Homo sapiens: one gene and its partner. The protein of the gene in region 1 interacts with the protein of each later gene in a biochemical or structural test. Each region holds a gene or a part of one and is shown in the gene's direction. Other genes may lie near its edges.

Evidence for each region.
Region 2: of the proteins of CTNNB1 (region 1) and GSK3B, one has a biochemical effect on the other in vitro, tested with the Homo sapiens proteins (11 studies listed by BioGRID and IntAct).

The regions. Positions count from the first base shown.
Region 1 is NC_000003.12:41,223,496-41,230,518, forward strand, and holds part of CTNNB1 (catenin beta-1), read left to right. Parts: intron 1-525; 5' UTR 526-573; coding exon 574-586; intron 587-694; exon of another isoform or gene 695-826; intron 827-1,030; coding exon 1,031-1,258; intron 1,259-1,458; coding exon 1,459-1,712; intron 1,713-1,838; coding exon 1,839-2,077; intron 2,078-2,164; coding exon 2,165-2,366; intron 2,367-3,712; coding exon 3,713-3,857; intron 3,858-7,023. UniProt on the Homo sapiens protein: Key downstream component of the canonical Wnt signaling pathway.
Region 2 is NC_000003.12:120,091,443-120,098,826, reverse strand, and holds the start of GSK3B (glycogen synthase kinase-3 beta), read left to right. Parts: upstream 1-4,379; 5' UTR 4,380-5,392; coding exon 5,393-5,480; intron 5,481-7,384. UniProt on the Homo sapiens protein: Constitutively active protein kinase that acts as a negative regulator in the hormonal control of glucose homeostasis, Wnt signaling and regulation of transcription factors and microtubules, by phosphorylating and inactivating glycogen synthase (GYS1 or GYS2), EIF2B, CTNNB1/beta-catenin, APC, AXIN1, DPYSL2/CRMP2, JUN, NFATC1/NFATC, MAPT/TAU and MACF1.

The DNA.
Region 1 (7,023 bases):
AAATTCGCTATTCTAGTCACCAAAATTTGCTTTATGAAAAATAATTTTTGATGGCACTATATCAGAAAACAACTTGTTAAAGAAAATGTGGAGTTTTTAAAATCCCACTGTACCTCTGTTATCCAAAGGGGATCTGTGAATTTTTCTGTGAAAGGTTAAAAAAGGAGAGACCTTTAGGAATTCAGAGAGCAGCTGATTTTTGAATAGTGTTTTCCCCTCCCTGGCTTTTATTATTACAACTCTGTGCTTTTTCATCACCATCCTGAATATCTATAATTAATATTTATACTATTAATAAAAAGACATTTTTGGTAAGGAGGAGTTTTCACTGAAGTTCAGCAGTGATGGAGCTGTGGTTGAGGTGTCTGGAGGAGACCATGAGGTCTGCGTTTCACTAACCTGGTAAAAGAGGATATGGGTTTTTTTTGTGGGTGTAATAGTGACATTTAACAGGTATCCCAGTGACTTAGGAGTATTAATCAAGCTAAATTTAAATCCTAATGACTTTTGATTAACTTTTTTTAGGGTATTTGAAGTATACCATACAACTGTTTTGAAAATCCAGCGTGGACAATGGCTACTCAAGGTTTGTGTCATTAAATCTTTAGTTACTGAATTGGGGCTCTGCTTCGTTGCCATTAAGCCAGTCTGGCTGAGATCCCCCTGCTTTCCTCTCTCCCTGCTTACTTGTCAGGCTACCTTTTGCTCCATTTTCTGCTCACTCCTCCTAATGGCTTGGTGAAATAGCAAACAAGCCACCAGCAGGAATCTAGTCTGGATGACTGCTTCTGGAGCCTGGATGCAGTACCATTCTTCCACTGATTCAGTGAGTAACTGTTAGGTGGTTCCCTAAGGGATTAGGTATTTCATCACTGAGCTAACCCTGGCTATCATTCTGCTTTTCTTGGCTGTCTTTCAGATTTGACTTTATTTCTAAAAATATTTCAATGGGTCATATCACAGATTCTTTTTTTTTAAATTAAAGTAACATTTCCAATCTACTAATGCTAATACTGTTTCGTATTTATAGCTGATTTGATGGAGTTGGACATGGCCATGGAACCAGACAGAAAAGCGGCTGTTAGTCACTGGCAGCAACAGTCTTACCTGGACTCTGGAATCCATTCTGGTGCCACTACCACAGCTCCTTCTCTGAGTGGTAAAGGCAATCCTGAGGAAGAGGATGTGGATACCTCCCAAGTCCTGTATGAGTGGGAACAGGGATTTTCTCAGTCCTTCACTCAAGAACAAGTAGCTGGTAAGAGTATTATTTTTCATTGCCTTACTGAAAGTCAGAATGCAGTTTTGAGAACTAAAAAGTTAGTGTATAATAGTTTAAATAAAATGTTGTGGTGAAGAAAAGAGAGTAATAGCAATGTCACTTTTACCATTTAGGATAGCAAATACTTAGGTAAATGCTGAACTGTGGATAGTGAGTGTTGAATTAACCTTTTCCAGATATTGATGGACAGTATGCAATGACTCGAGCTCAGAGGGTACGAGCTGCTATGTTCCCTGAGACATTAGATGAGGGCATGCAGATCCCATCTACACAGTTTGATGCTGCTCATCCCACTAATGTCCAGCGTTTGGCTGAACCATCACAGATGCTGAAACATGCAGTTGTAAACTTGATTAACTATCAAGATGATGCAGAACTTGCCACACGTGCAATCCCTGAACTGACAAAACTGCTAAATGACGAGGACCAGGTAAGCAATGACATAGCTAGCTTTTTAGTCTGCTTTGAAGTAAATGCTCAAGGGGAGTAGTTTCAGAATGTCTACCCAATACCAGTACTTGAAAACTAACGATGTTTCTGAATTCCTGTATTACAGGTGGTGGTTAATAAGGCTGCAGTTATGGTCCATCAGCTTTCTAAAAAGGAAGCTTCCAGACACGCTATCATGCGTTCTCCTCAGATGGTGTCTGCTATTGTACGTACCATGCAGAATACAAATGATGTAGAAACAGCTCGTTGTACCGCTGGGACCTTGCATAACCTTTCCCATCATCGTGAGGGCTTACTGGCCATCTTTAAGTCTGGAGGCATTCCTGCCCTGGTGAAAATGCTTGGGTAAGAAAACATGTCAGAATGCTTGAAGCTAAAAAGTAGAAGAGTATACTCACAATATTTCTGATGAGGCTTTTTTCTTCTTCCCAGTTCACCAGTGGATTCTGTGTTGTTTTATGCCATTACAACTCTCCACAACCTTTTATTACATCAAGAAGGAGCTAAAATGGCAGTGCGTTTAGCTGGTGGGCTGCAGAAAATGGTTGCCTTGCTCAACAAAACAAATGTTAAATTCTTGGCTATTACGACAGACTGCCTTCAAATTTTAGCTTATGGCAACCAAGAAAGCAAGGTAAGAGAATTATTCTTTATGTGGTTTTCATGGAGCATTGGACACCTCCAGTGTCATGTCATTCCATGCAGTGTTCCTAACCTTTTTGGCACCAGGGACCAGTTTCGTGGAAAACAGTTTTTCCATGAATGGGTTGTGGGAATGGTTTCTGGATGACACCATTCCACCTCAGATAATCAGGCATTAGATTCTCATAGGGAGCGTGCAGCCTAGATCCCTCGCATGTGCAGTCCACACTAGGGTTTCTACTCCTATGAGACTCTCATGGTGCAGTTGATCTGACAGGAGGTAGAGCTCAAGCCAGGTAATGCTCGCTCACCTGCCACTTACCTCCTGCTGTGCAGCCCAGTTCATTTCTGTTCTTTTAAATTTTTGAGTTTCCATATGTAAAGCACTATGCGAAGTAGTAGGGATATGGTAGGCAAGCTTCTCTTCACACTTTTGTTCTTAGGTGGGATGTAGATGTTGGGAATAATAACCTAATATTTAATTTGTGTAGTGGGAAGAAGTGGGGCTATGAGGGCACATAACACAAGTTGAAACTGACTCTTTTTGAGGGTTCAAGGAGACCTCTTGGAGGAAGTGATAGTTGAGTTCAGTGTTCAAGGATGAGAAGGGATTCACTAGGTGAAGGTTAGGTGAGAAAACAACATCTTTGAAACGAAGGAAGGAGATGGAAAGTTTTGGGAATTTAAGAAATACTAATAGTAAGGAGGAAGAAAGGTTTGAGGTGAGGCTATTGAGATAGACTTAGCAGATCTCATAGGGCTTTGTAGAGCATGTTTAAAAGCACAATGGGAAATTTCAGCAGAAGCCTGAAATGATGAAATTTGTTTTTAGAAAATTGGGGCAGTGTTGAAAGGGAAGATATACAGGGAATGAAAGGACAAGCATGAATGATCATTTTATGGTATCTGTTTTTAAGGTGGATATAATTAGGAAAATTAAAGGGCCAAATGATGAGGAGTTAAGTGCCAGTTCTGGTTCAAATTTTCAGTGAATCAGTTTTGATATAACTTTCATCTTAGGGCATTACTCTTGCCTACCAACATAGTTTCTAAATTTTTTTCTTTTGGTGTGATCACTGTGGGAAGAAGGAAATTGGGCCCAAACTGATACATTGTTTGGAGGACTGGGATGTCTGAATTTGAGTGGAATGCTTTAAAAGGACAAGTTGGATAGGGCCCCAGTATGGGGGTCTGAGTGATGGGGTCCAGGAATACATTTAGGTCCAATGGCAAGCTGGCTGAAATTCTTGTATAATAAAATAGGTTGGTAATATGGCTCTTCTCAGACATGTGATCAAGATTCCTTGACTAACAAGATATATATATATATCTTTCTAGCTCATCATACTGGCTAGTGGTGGACCCCAAGCTTTAGTAAATATAATGAGGACCTATACTTACGAAAAACTACTGTGGACCACAAGCAGAGTGCTGAAGGTGCTATCTGTCTGCTCTAGTAATAAGCCGGCTATTGTAGAAGCTGGTAAGTATATGTATCTATTCTGAGTCTTGTGTATAGCATCTGCAGTTCTAATTAGATTACTTTTCTTAGGAAAAGGTGGTAGAACTTTAACTACTGAAAATAAATGGTCCTATTCAGTTTGCAGCCAAGATTTACATTCAGAGTACCTGTCATCTGGATTGTAGCTAAATATTTAAGGCTAGTTTAGGTAGAGTTCTTATTATCCATCAAAAATGATGGCATATGTTTTGCTTAATAAAATTTGTTTGTAATTTCAGTTTTGAGTAAACCTAAGATTTGCTAACAGAGCTGTGAATTTATAGGAGAAAAGACAAATTCTAATATAGTACAGTTTTATGTAAAGTGATTGCTTTATTAGTAGATGCTCATGAGCAGTTTTTGTTTTGTTTTAACTTTTAGGTTCCGGGTAATGTGCAGGCTTGTTATATAGGTAAATTGCATGTCACAGGGGTTTCGTGTGCAGATTATTTTGTCACCCAGGCAGTAAGTATTGTACCCAATAGGTAGTTTTTCAGTTCTTTACCTCCCACCCGTAAGTAGGCCCCAGTGTCTGTTGTTCCCTTCTTTGTGCCCGTGTGTACTCAGTGTTTACCTCCCACTTATAAGTGAGAACATGTGGTATTTGGTTTTCTATTCCTATGTTAGTTTGCTTAGGATAATGGCCTCCAGCTCCATCCATGTTGCTGAGGAAGACATCTTGGTATTTTTTTATGGCTGCTTAGTATTCCATAGTATATATGTACCACATTTTCTTTATCTAGTCTACCATTGATGGGCATTTAGGTTAATTCCATATCTTTGCTATTGTGAATAATGCTGCAGTGAACATATGCATGCATGTGTCTTTATGGTAAAAAGATTTCTTTTTCTTTGGGCATATACCTAATAATAGGATTGCTGGATTGAATGGTAATTCTGTCAGGTTTTTTGAGAAATCACCAAATTGCTTTCCACAATGGCTGAACTAATTTACTTTCCCACCAGCAGTGTATAAGCATTCTCTTTTCTCAGCAACCTCACCAGCATCTGTCATTTTTTGACTTTTTATTAGTAGCCATTCTAACTGGTGTGAGACGGTATCTCATTGTGGTTTTGATTTGCATTTCTCTAATGATCAGTGATGTCGAGCTTTTCTTCATATGTTTCTTGGCCACTTGTATGTCTTCTTTTGAAAAGTGTCTGTTCATGTCCTTTGCCCACTTTTTAATGGGGTTGTTCTTTTTTGCTTGTTAATTTAAGTTTATTGTAAACTCTGGATATTAGACCTTTGTCAGATGCATAGTTTGCCAGTACTTTCTCCCATGCCAGTACTTTCTCCCATTCTGTAGGTTGTCTGTTTACTCTGTTGATTTCTTTTGCTGCGCAGAAGCTCTTTATACTGTCCCATTTGTCAGTTTTTGTTTTTGTTGCAACTTCTCTTGGCATCTTCGTCATGAAATCTTTGCCAGGTCTTATGTCCAGAATGGTATTTCCTAGGTTATCTTGCAGAGTTTTTACAGTTTTAAGTTTTATATTTAAGTCTTTAATCCATTCTGAGTTGATTTTTGTACATCATGTAAGGATGGGGTGCAGTTTCAATCTTGGATGTGGCTAGCCAGTTATCCCAGCACCATTTATTGAATAGGGAGTCCTTTCCCCATTGCTTGTTTTTGTTTACTTGTTAGGTGTGCGGCCTAACTTCTGGGCTTTCTTTTCTGTTCCATTGGTCTCTGTGTCTGTTTGTATACCAGTACCATGCTGTGATTGTAACCTTGTATTAACAGTATAGCTTGAAGTTGGGTAAAGTGATTCCTCCAGTTTTGTTCTTTTTGCTTAGGATTGCCTTGGCTATTCAGGCTCTTTTTTGGGTTCATATGAATTTTTAAATAGTTTTTTTTTAATTATGTGAAGAATGCCATTGGTAGTTTGGTAGGAATAGCATTGAATCTGTGAATTGCTTTGGGCTGTATGGCCATTTTAACAATATTGATTCTTCCTGCCATGAAATAGAATGTTTTTTCATTTGTTGGTGTCATCTCTGATTTCTTTGAGCAGTGTTTTTTGTAATTCTCATTGTAGAGATCTTTCACCTCCCTGGTTAGTTGTATTCCTAGGTATTTTATTCTTTTTGTGGCTTTGGTAAATGGGATTGCATTCTTGATTTGGCTTGCAGCTTGGATGTTGTTGGTGTCTAGAAATGCTTCTGACTTTTGTACATTGATTTTTATATCCTGAAACTTTGCTGAAGTTTATTGGATCAAGGAGCTTTTGGGCAGAGATTATGGGGTTTTCTAGGTATAGAATCATATTGTTTGCAAACAGACTTCCTATTTGGATGCATTTTCTTTCTCTTGCCTGATTATGAGCAGTGTTTTGCCCTGATATTCTGTATTCTCAGTGAATAGATGTCGTCTAAGTATGAGAAACAATTTTTTTCTATTCTGAGTATTTTTAAGAAGGCAACTTATATGTGGTACTTTGTATATTGTGTATGTTGGCAATTGGGGAAAAGAATAGATGGTTTGTACTAGGGCCTCTTGGGTTCTGTGTGTGTGTGTGTGTGTGTGTGTGTGTGTCATGAAAACAGTTACTTTTTAGCTACCAAGCATTTTTTCTCCTTTCAGTAACCCACCTAACAACATTTACTCAGAATTTCAAAGCAAGCTTCAAATCAGTATTGAAAGAAGGAAAAATATAAAGGCATTTAATGGAAGAAAATGTTGGGAATAAAGTATAGGGCTGGCAACACTTACTTTTCTCACTTATTGAGAGTAATTTTACTTGGGAATTTATGAGAGAGAAAGACATTATGATTGCTCCAGGTAACTACTGGCAGAGGAACCATAGTCTTGGGGATAGACAAATGTGGCTGAGTTCATATAGAATGAGGGGATGGGATGTAAATTCTGTCAGCTGTTCCAGCAGTAACCTGTAATGTAGGCTAAAAATACAGATTTTGAGATTTATTTAATCAGAATCCCTGGAGTGTTAATTTTTATATCAAGATCTCATAGTGTTTTATTTGAAGTGACAGGGAGGTCTGTAGATAGCTGGACATGTATGGGACTGGAAGCTTAGGAATCTTTAAGTTCTTCCAGGTTATTCTTATGTTCATTTGTTTATTCTGAAAATAGCATCTAATGTATTTTAAGAAATGGAATAGGCACATAGTATACATTGGGTAACA
Region 2 (7,384 bases), about 79 Mb from region 1:
TGGGTTGAAATTGAAGTGATGGAAAGTAATTTACCTCCCCTCTTCTTTCTTCATCTTCAAATCCTACTACTCCTCCTTTAAGATCACTTTAGATTGAAGTGTCCTCCACTCACCTATTATAAATAGGAATGCATGGGCAATTTATTTTAAACTTTGTAGTAACAACCATATTAACAAATTATAGGCCAGGCATGGTGACTCACGCCAGTAATCCTAGCGTTTTGAGAAGCCATGGCACGCAGATTTTGAGCCCAGGAGTTTGAGACCAGTCTGGGCAACATGGCGAAACCCCATTTATACAAAAAATACAAAAATTAGCTGGGTGTGGTGGTGCACCCTTGTAGTCCTAGCTACTTGGGGGGCTGAGGCAGCAGGATCCCTTGAACCTGGGAGGTTGAGGCCGCAGCACTCCAGCCTGGAGGACAAAGTGAGACCCTGTCTCAAAAAAATAAATAAAAACCAAATTATGTTCTGTCTCATAACTTTTATCAATTCAAAATGTGATTTTTATAATTTATTTAACTTTTCATGTAGTTGCTTCCCTAGAGGGTAAACTCCCAAAGGACACTGATCCTCTCATCCACCTTATATCAGATGCCTAGCAGGTGTCTCAAATATAATACTTACTCACTATTGTCTAGTTTTACTATTTTAACTTATATGACAAAGGATTATCATAAAAATTTTCGTTGGAAAGCTTTGCTGAGAAATGTGAATTTTTTTTAAGAATTCCATTGTAATTAGAGGCTTCTGAGGGACATGTGAATCATAGTGAAGAAATAATATAAATGTTATTTTTTGGGCCAATTCCCCTTAAAATCAAACACAGAGGTGGGGTACAGTGGCTTACACCTGTAATCCCAGCTACTTAGGAGGCTGAGGTGGGAGGACTGCTTGAGCCCAGAAGTTCAAGGCCATAGTGAGCTATGACTGTGCTACTGCACTCCATCCTGGATAACAGTGAGATTAAAAGATAAATAAAAGTAAAAAAATAGAAATTTATTATAAAAATACTAAGCAAAGACATTTAAATATTTTCATTTATATTTAAATATGTTATTGACGAGTTATTCTAATTTGTCTTCCTTTCCAATCTTGATCCAAATGTACTTATATTTTACAGATTGGAAATATGGTAGATATACAACCTGAAGTTCTATATTTTTCAATTAGTATTGTTTCCTAAACATATTTCTGAGTTACTTTTGGTGGTTGTATTTATTTTTACTGGCTGCCTAATATGGAGTTAATACAGCATAGTTTACTTTACTCCTCTATTATCCTGTGATATTTTCCTTTATTTTCTCTTGGCCCACATCTTAGACATTACATAATTTCAAACTATCTCAAGGTCTCCAAATACCTTGTTAAACATTTCAGCCATTGCATAACCTTTTCTCTTTGCCTGGAATGTTCTTTCCTTCCTTATCCATCTGTACAACTGTACAACTATTCTTTGTCTAAACTAGTGGTTCATAAACTTTTTTTTTTTTTTTTTTTTTGAGACGGAGTTTTGCTCTTGTTGCCTTGGCTGGAGTGCAATGGTGCGATCTCAGCTCACTGCAACCTCCACCTCCTGGGTTCAAGCAATTATCCTGCCTCAGCCTCCCAAGTAACTGGTATTATAGACGCCCGCCACCACGCCCAGCTAAGTTTTAAAGTTTTAGTAGAGACGGGGTTTCACCATGATGACCAGGCTAGTCTTGAACTCCTAACCTCAGGCGATCCACCTGCCTCGGCCTCCCAAATTGCTGGGATTACAGTCATAAGCCACCACTCCTGGCTTGTCCATAAACTCTTGATCTTGAGCTAACATGATATGCACATTATAAGATACACACAGAAATAAAAAAAGGATTAAAGGTGCACTATTTTAAAGATAAATTTCAACCGGCCCGGTGTGGTGGCTTACGCCTGTAATCCTGACACTCTGTGAGGCTGAGGCAGGCAGATCACCTGAGGTCGGGAGTTCGAGACCAGCCTGACCAACATGAAGAAACCCCGTCTCTACTAAAAATACAAAAGTAGCTGGCATGGTGGCACATGCCTGTGATCCCAACTACTTGGGAGGCTGAGGCAGGAGAATCACTTGAATCGGGGAGGCGGAGGTTGCGGTGAGCCGAGATCGCGCCACTGCACTCCAGCCTGGGCAACAAGAGTGAAACTCCGTCTCAAAAATAAATAAATAAATAAAGATACATTTCAATTATTTAAGGTCCCAAACCATTTTGTTTTCACCCTCCTACTGCTATCGGGCCCCTAACAATTATTAACACTTTTTCCAATGCCTCATTGGCCAAGGGATGTTTTTAGGTTGGCCTGCAGGGTTTGAAAATTTGGTTACCAACATTTAAAAATGCAGAGATTTCACACAAAAATCCAATTTTGGGGTTTCTTTTGGGAGGAAAAAAATTGAACATCTGAGAACACTGGACCCACATTCCTGAGGGCAACAATCTGCTAGAGTTGAGCAGCTGTTCCTTTTAGTTATGGCATGGATATTCCAATTTGCCATTTTCCCTATCATTCCCCATTGTCTTACACAAGGCCAGTCTCACTCATTTGCTTTACTTGTCTGGCCTCTGTAGCCATTTGAATCTGCAAACACTATCTAGACCTTTCCTGTCTTCCATCAAAGCTTACTTTGTTCTGTCCCAAGTCCTTCATCAGTGTTTCAAAGCAAGAGCCAGGTAATCTGATCAAATATAGGTCCTTTAACATGTGCTTTCTGGAGACAGCATCTTAACAGAAAGAGATGACTCTGCAGGTAGAAATTACAGGCACCACTGGATTACAATCAGGATGGCAACTGTCTGTTCTACTTTCTCTGTTATCTTGACGTAGCCATACCTCACTGTTCTAAAGCAGACCAAAGGAACTGGTTCTATGGTAGAACAATGGACGCTGGTCTTATGTATGAAATCTTCTCAAGCTGCACTTTTATAGATCACCCTAGTTCCAAAAGATCCAAAGCTACCACGGGCTCCTCTGACCCCCCCATTTCCTCGGAGGCTTCAGGATATCCGGCCTGACGGCATTTCCCCTCACCTGCTTTCGGGGCCCGTTTTGCGCTGGGCAGTTGCGCCCAAGGAGCGCGCGCATCCAGCATGAGCTCATTTCTCATGGGCGTTTCCAGAGGCCCGGCCGGGCCGCGCACACCAAGCGCAGCAAGCCTCTGTATCAATGGCCCCCGCGGCTGGGCGGGGCGCGGCCGCCCAAAGGCGCTGCCTTTCTGGAAGCTTTGTTCCCATTTTAGCGTCTGAGAGCTTGCAGCCGGCTGGGAAGGCCCCCTTGGTCCGTCTGGCCCTTTCGGGGAAGAGGCCAACACTCGGCACACGCGATCCACGGCAGAGGGGAGCCTTGGGCGCGCAGAATTGGCTGCGCCCCGCCGAGAGCCTCCTGTGGGTGGGGAGAGCCCCTCCACCCCTCTGCTCGCTTGAGCGCTCAGAGCCCAGGGCCGCCGACCGCAGCACTTTCCGATTTGCTGCACCGAGGGCCCGCGGTCCCTGTGTGCGGTTTCCACCGTTGTTGGAGGCGGCCGCAGGCGAACCGTCGGGTCGTCAGCCACGACCCGAGTCAGGCATCTCCCCGCTCCTGGGACCGGGGCCGAAGGCCAATCACACTGCAGCTAGGTCTTGCGATTGGACGGCAGTGAGAGCCGATTGGCCGCCGCCGCGAGTTTCGGGCTCCCTCCCTCTCCCTTTTGCCCCAACTCCAGCGCCTAAGCTTCAGGCCAATGAGACAGCGCTTTATAGACGCCCTCCCTTCGCTTTCTTCTCCCCACCTTGGAGAGGGAGGGGAAGTCCTGACTGGCCAGACTGTCCTCGGAAGCCCCCTTCTCTTCACCAATCACCGAAGGAGGTACGCTCCCAGCGGAGTTTTCCAGCCAATCACAAAGCGGCGGCGGCGCCCAGCCGTGCAGTTTCACCAGCGTCTCTGGGTTTCACCGTCCTCAACTCTTCAAGCCTCTTCGTAAGGGCCGGCGACTCTGATTGGCCACTGTTGCCATTGTCGAATGTCTCCTCCAGCCAGCCACCGAACAAGGCGAATTCACCCTTTCCGTTCGGCTACCTTCGGCATTTTCCGCTCTTTGGGCGTGGCTTCCCAGCGTCACTTTCTAATTGGTTTCTCAGGCTGATCGGCTTTTTCCGGGAGGAGCCGCAAACAAACGACGTCCGTGATTGGCTCCGTTCGGGCTTCGGCTCCCAGCCGAAGCGGGCGAGCGTGGGGCTCGGCCGGCGATTCCCAGACGCCTGTTACGCGGGCGGCGGGGCGCTGGGCGGTGTAAGGCTGGGTGGGGGAGGAAGGAGGTGGAGGACGAGTAGGAGGGGGGAGGAGGAGTGGGGAAGTGCAAGGCGGCTGCGCAGACAGCGCTCCTCACACAGAGCAGCTCCTGACCCGGGCGAATGCGGGCTTGTGCCGCCGCCGCCGCCGCCGCCGCCCGGGCCAAGTGACAAAGGAAGGAAGGAAGCGAGGAGGAGCCGGCCCCGCAGCCGCTGACAGGGCTCTGGGCTGGGGCAAAGCGCGGACACTTCCTGAGCGGGCACCGAGCAGAGCCGAGGGGCGGGAGGGCGGCCGAGCTGTTGCCGCGGACGGGGGAGGGGGCCCCGAGGGACGGAAGCGGTTGCCGGGTTCCCATGTCCCCGGCGAATGGGGAACAGTCGAGGAGCCGCTGCCTGGGGTCTGAAGGGAGCTGCCTCCGCCACCGCCATGGCCGCTGGATCCAGCCGCCGCCTGCAGCTGCTCCTGGCGCAATGAGGAGAGGAGCCGCCGCCACCGCCACCGCCCGCCTCTGACTGACTCGCGACTCCGCCGCCCTCTAGTTCGCCGGGCCCCTGCCGTCAGCCCGCCGGATCCCGCGGCTTGCCGGAGCTGCAGCGTTTCCCGTCGCATCTCCGAGCCACCCCCTCCCTCCCTCTCCCTCCCTCCTACCCATCCCCCTTTCTCTTCAAGCGTGAGACTCGTGATCCTTCCGCCGCTTCCCTTCTTCATTGACTCGGAAAAAAAATCCCCGAGGAAAATATAATATTCGAAGTACTCATTTTCAATCAAGTATTTGCCCCCGTTTCACGTGATACATATTTTTTTAGGATTTGCCCTCTCTTTTCTCTCCTCCCAGGAAAGGGAGGGGAAAGAATTGTATTTTTTCCCAAGTCCTAAATCATCTATATGTTAAATATCCGTGCCGATCTGTCTTGAAGGAGAAATATATCGCTTGTTTTGTTTTTTATAGTATACAAAAGGAGTGAAAAGCCAAGAGGACGAAGTCTTTTTCTTTTTCTTCTGTGGGAGAACTTAATGCTGCATTTATCGTTAACCTAACACCCCAACATAAAGACAAAAGGAAGAAAAGGAGGAAGGAAGGAAAAGGTGATTCGCGAAGAGAGTGATCATGTCAGGGCGGCCCAGAACCACCTCCTTTGCGGAGAGCTGCAAGCCGGTGCAGCAGCCTTCAGCTTTTGGCAGCATGAAAGTTAGCAGTGAGTATTGGTTTTATTTTACACCCCTTTTCCACCTCGCCCTTAAAATAAGAAACCTCGAAATACCAGGATCTGAAATTATTAGACCTCCTGATAAACAGGCAATGGAAAAGGGCAAAACCTATCTTCAGTCAAGGATGAAGCAGCTCCCTTTTTACTCCTCCCATACCCCCTCCCCCGGTCTCATTAACCTTGAATTGAGATAATATGATATTTATTTGGATGATTCGATTTCAAACTGCTTTCTTGTACTTTTCTTGCTGTTGGTAGTCAGTTTCATCAAGTGCTCGAGTGTTTCCACGTTAAAGTAGTGATGACAGTGTTTACTTGCCCATCCTTTAGAATAAAGAGAAGGACAAGATTTGATTACTAAACCATTATGCACATTTGCAGAATTTTTGGAATTTGGAATGAGAGAATATTTTAGGTCTCAGGGGTTATCATAGTTTGATATACTTAATAGAGACGTTAAATGTCCCACCCTCCCAACATTTTTTTCTTGTTTGTATGACTACACATAATATTTGTTCTTAATCTGTGGATGAACTTCCTCAGTAACCATTCACATTTGGAGGCTGCCATTGATTTCTCTCTTTAGAAGGGACTAGTGGGAGCCAATAAATACCTAGCAGCAGTAACATCTCTGTATGCATTTGTGTTCAATTGGATAAGTGGTTTGATGTGTTATCTCTTAACCTTCCTGTTTTGACATTACCAACCTGCCACCGTATAATTTATGTTTAATCAAAAGTTAACTTGGAAGTATTAATAGGTCCAAGTTTTGATTGAGATTTGTTTTGTCATAGTGCCAAATACTAAGTTAAATGTTGTCACTGGCTCATTACATTTAAGTTCAATTTTGGAGTGCTACTGCATTCATTACCTGTTAAATGTTCTGGCGGGTTCCTTAAAAAGGACGATTTAAAACACTCTAGCGTTAGTTTCCATCATATTTAGATAACTGTGGATTTAGTTAGAAGAATGTGGATTTAGTCCTTTCCATTTTGGCTTTTGCAGATGGCTATGGTCCTAGAAATAATAGGGATATTTGGGCTGTGTTCAGGGTTGTGGATAGACTACTCTTGTCCTGGGTTTGTGCTGAAAAGTATGCTCTTGAAGTGTTTAATATATACTAAGTATCTAATGTTCCAGTGTATCTCTATTTATGGAGAAGTTCATGTGGTATTTAATGATAGCTTGTTTAAACATACTTGCAGAATTTAACAAAAATATCTATATTGTTTCCTTATTGTGGGAAAGAGGGGCATCATGAGGGCAAAGACAAATTAATTTGTTGCCTAGAAGAACTGAGAGAACTAAAGAACTGAGATTTTAAGAACCCACACACACGCAAAACATGATGTTATGTGAAATTGATTATATTCTTAGGCAACATAAAATGATCACTTTTAGTTGAACTCAAGATTTCAATTCATGTTGGCTTTGGGAACTAGCCTGAAACAGGGTAGTCTAGGTAATAGCTGAATGGGAGATAATTTTTGAAAGTTAATTTTTTTTTTTTCTTGTGGCTTGCAAGTAGAGAATGCCCGGGTAGGTAAAGAGGAAAGCTGATTATGCATCTTTCAGGGAAGGGTCGTGCTTTCTAAGCACTTCATGGAGTGATTTGAAAAATATTTTAAAATTCCGGGGTAATTTTCAGCTATGATGATACAAATCTTATAATAGCTACTTAAGAGCCTCTTGTGGTACTGGAGTGTTTGTATGTTTTACATCTTGGTAATATAGTTTGAAAATCAGTCAGTCTATTTCAGCTAATTGATTTATTAGCTTTATTTCAGAGATCTGTAATGCTAGATTATAATGCTACATTTTGGGACTTTTCATTTTCTTTTCAGGATTTTCTTTGAAAATGACTCTTGAATTCTTGGTAATACAGATACTAA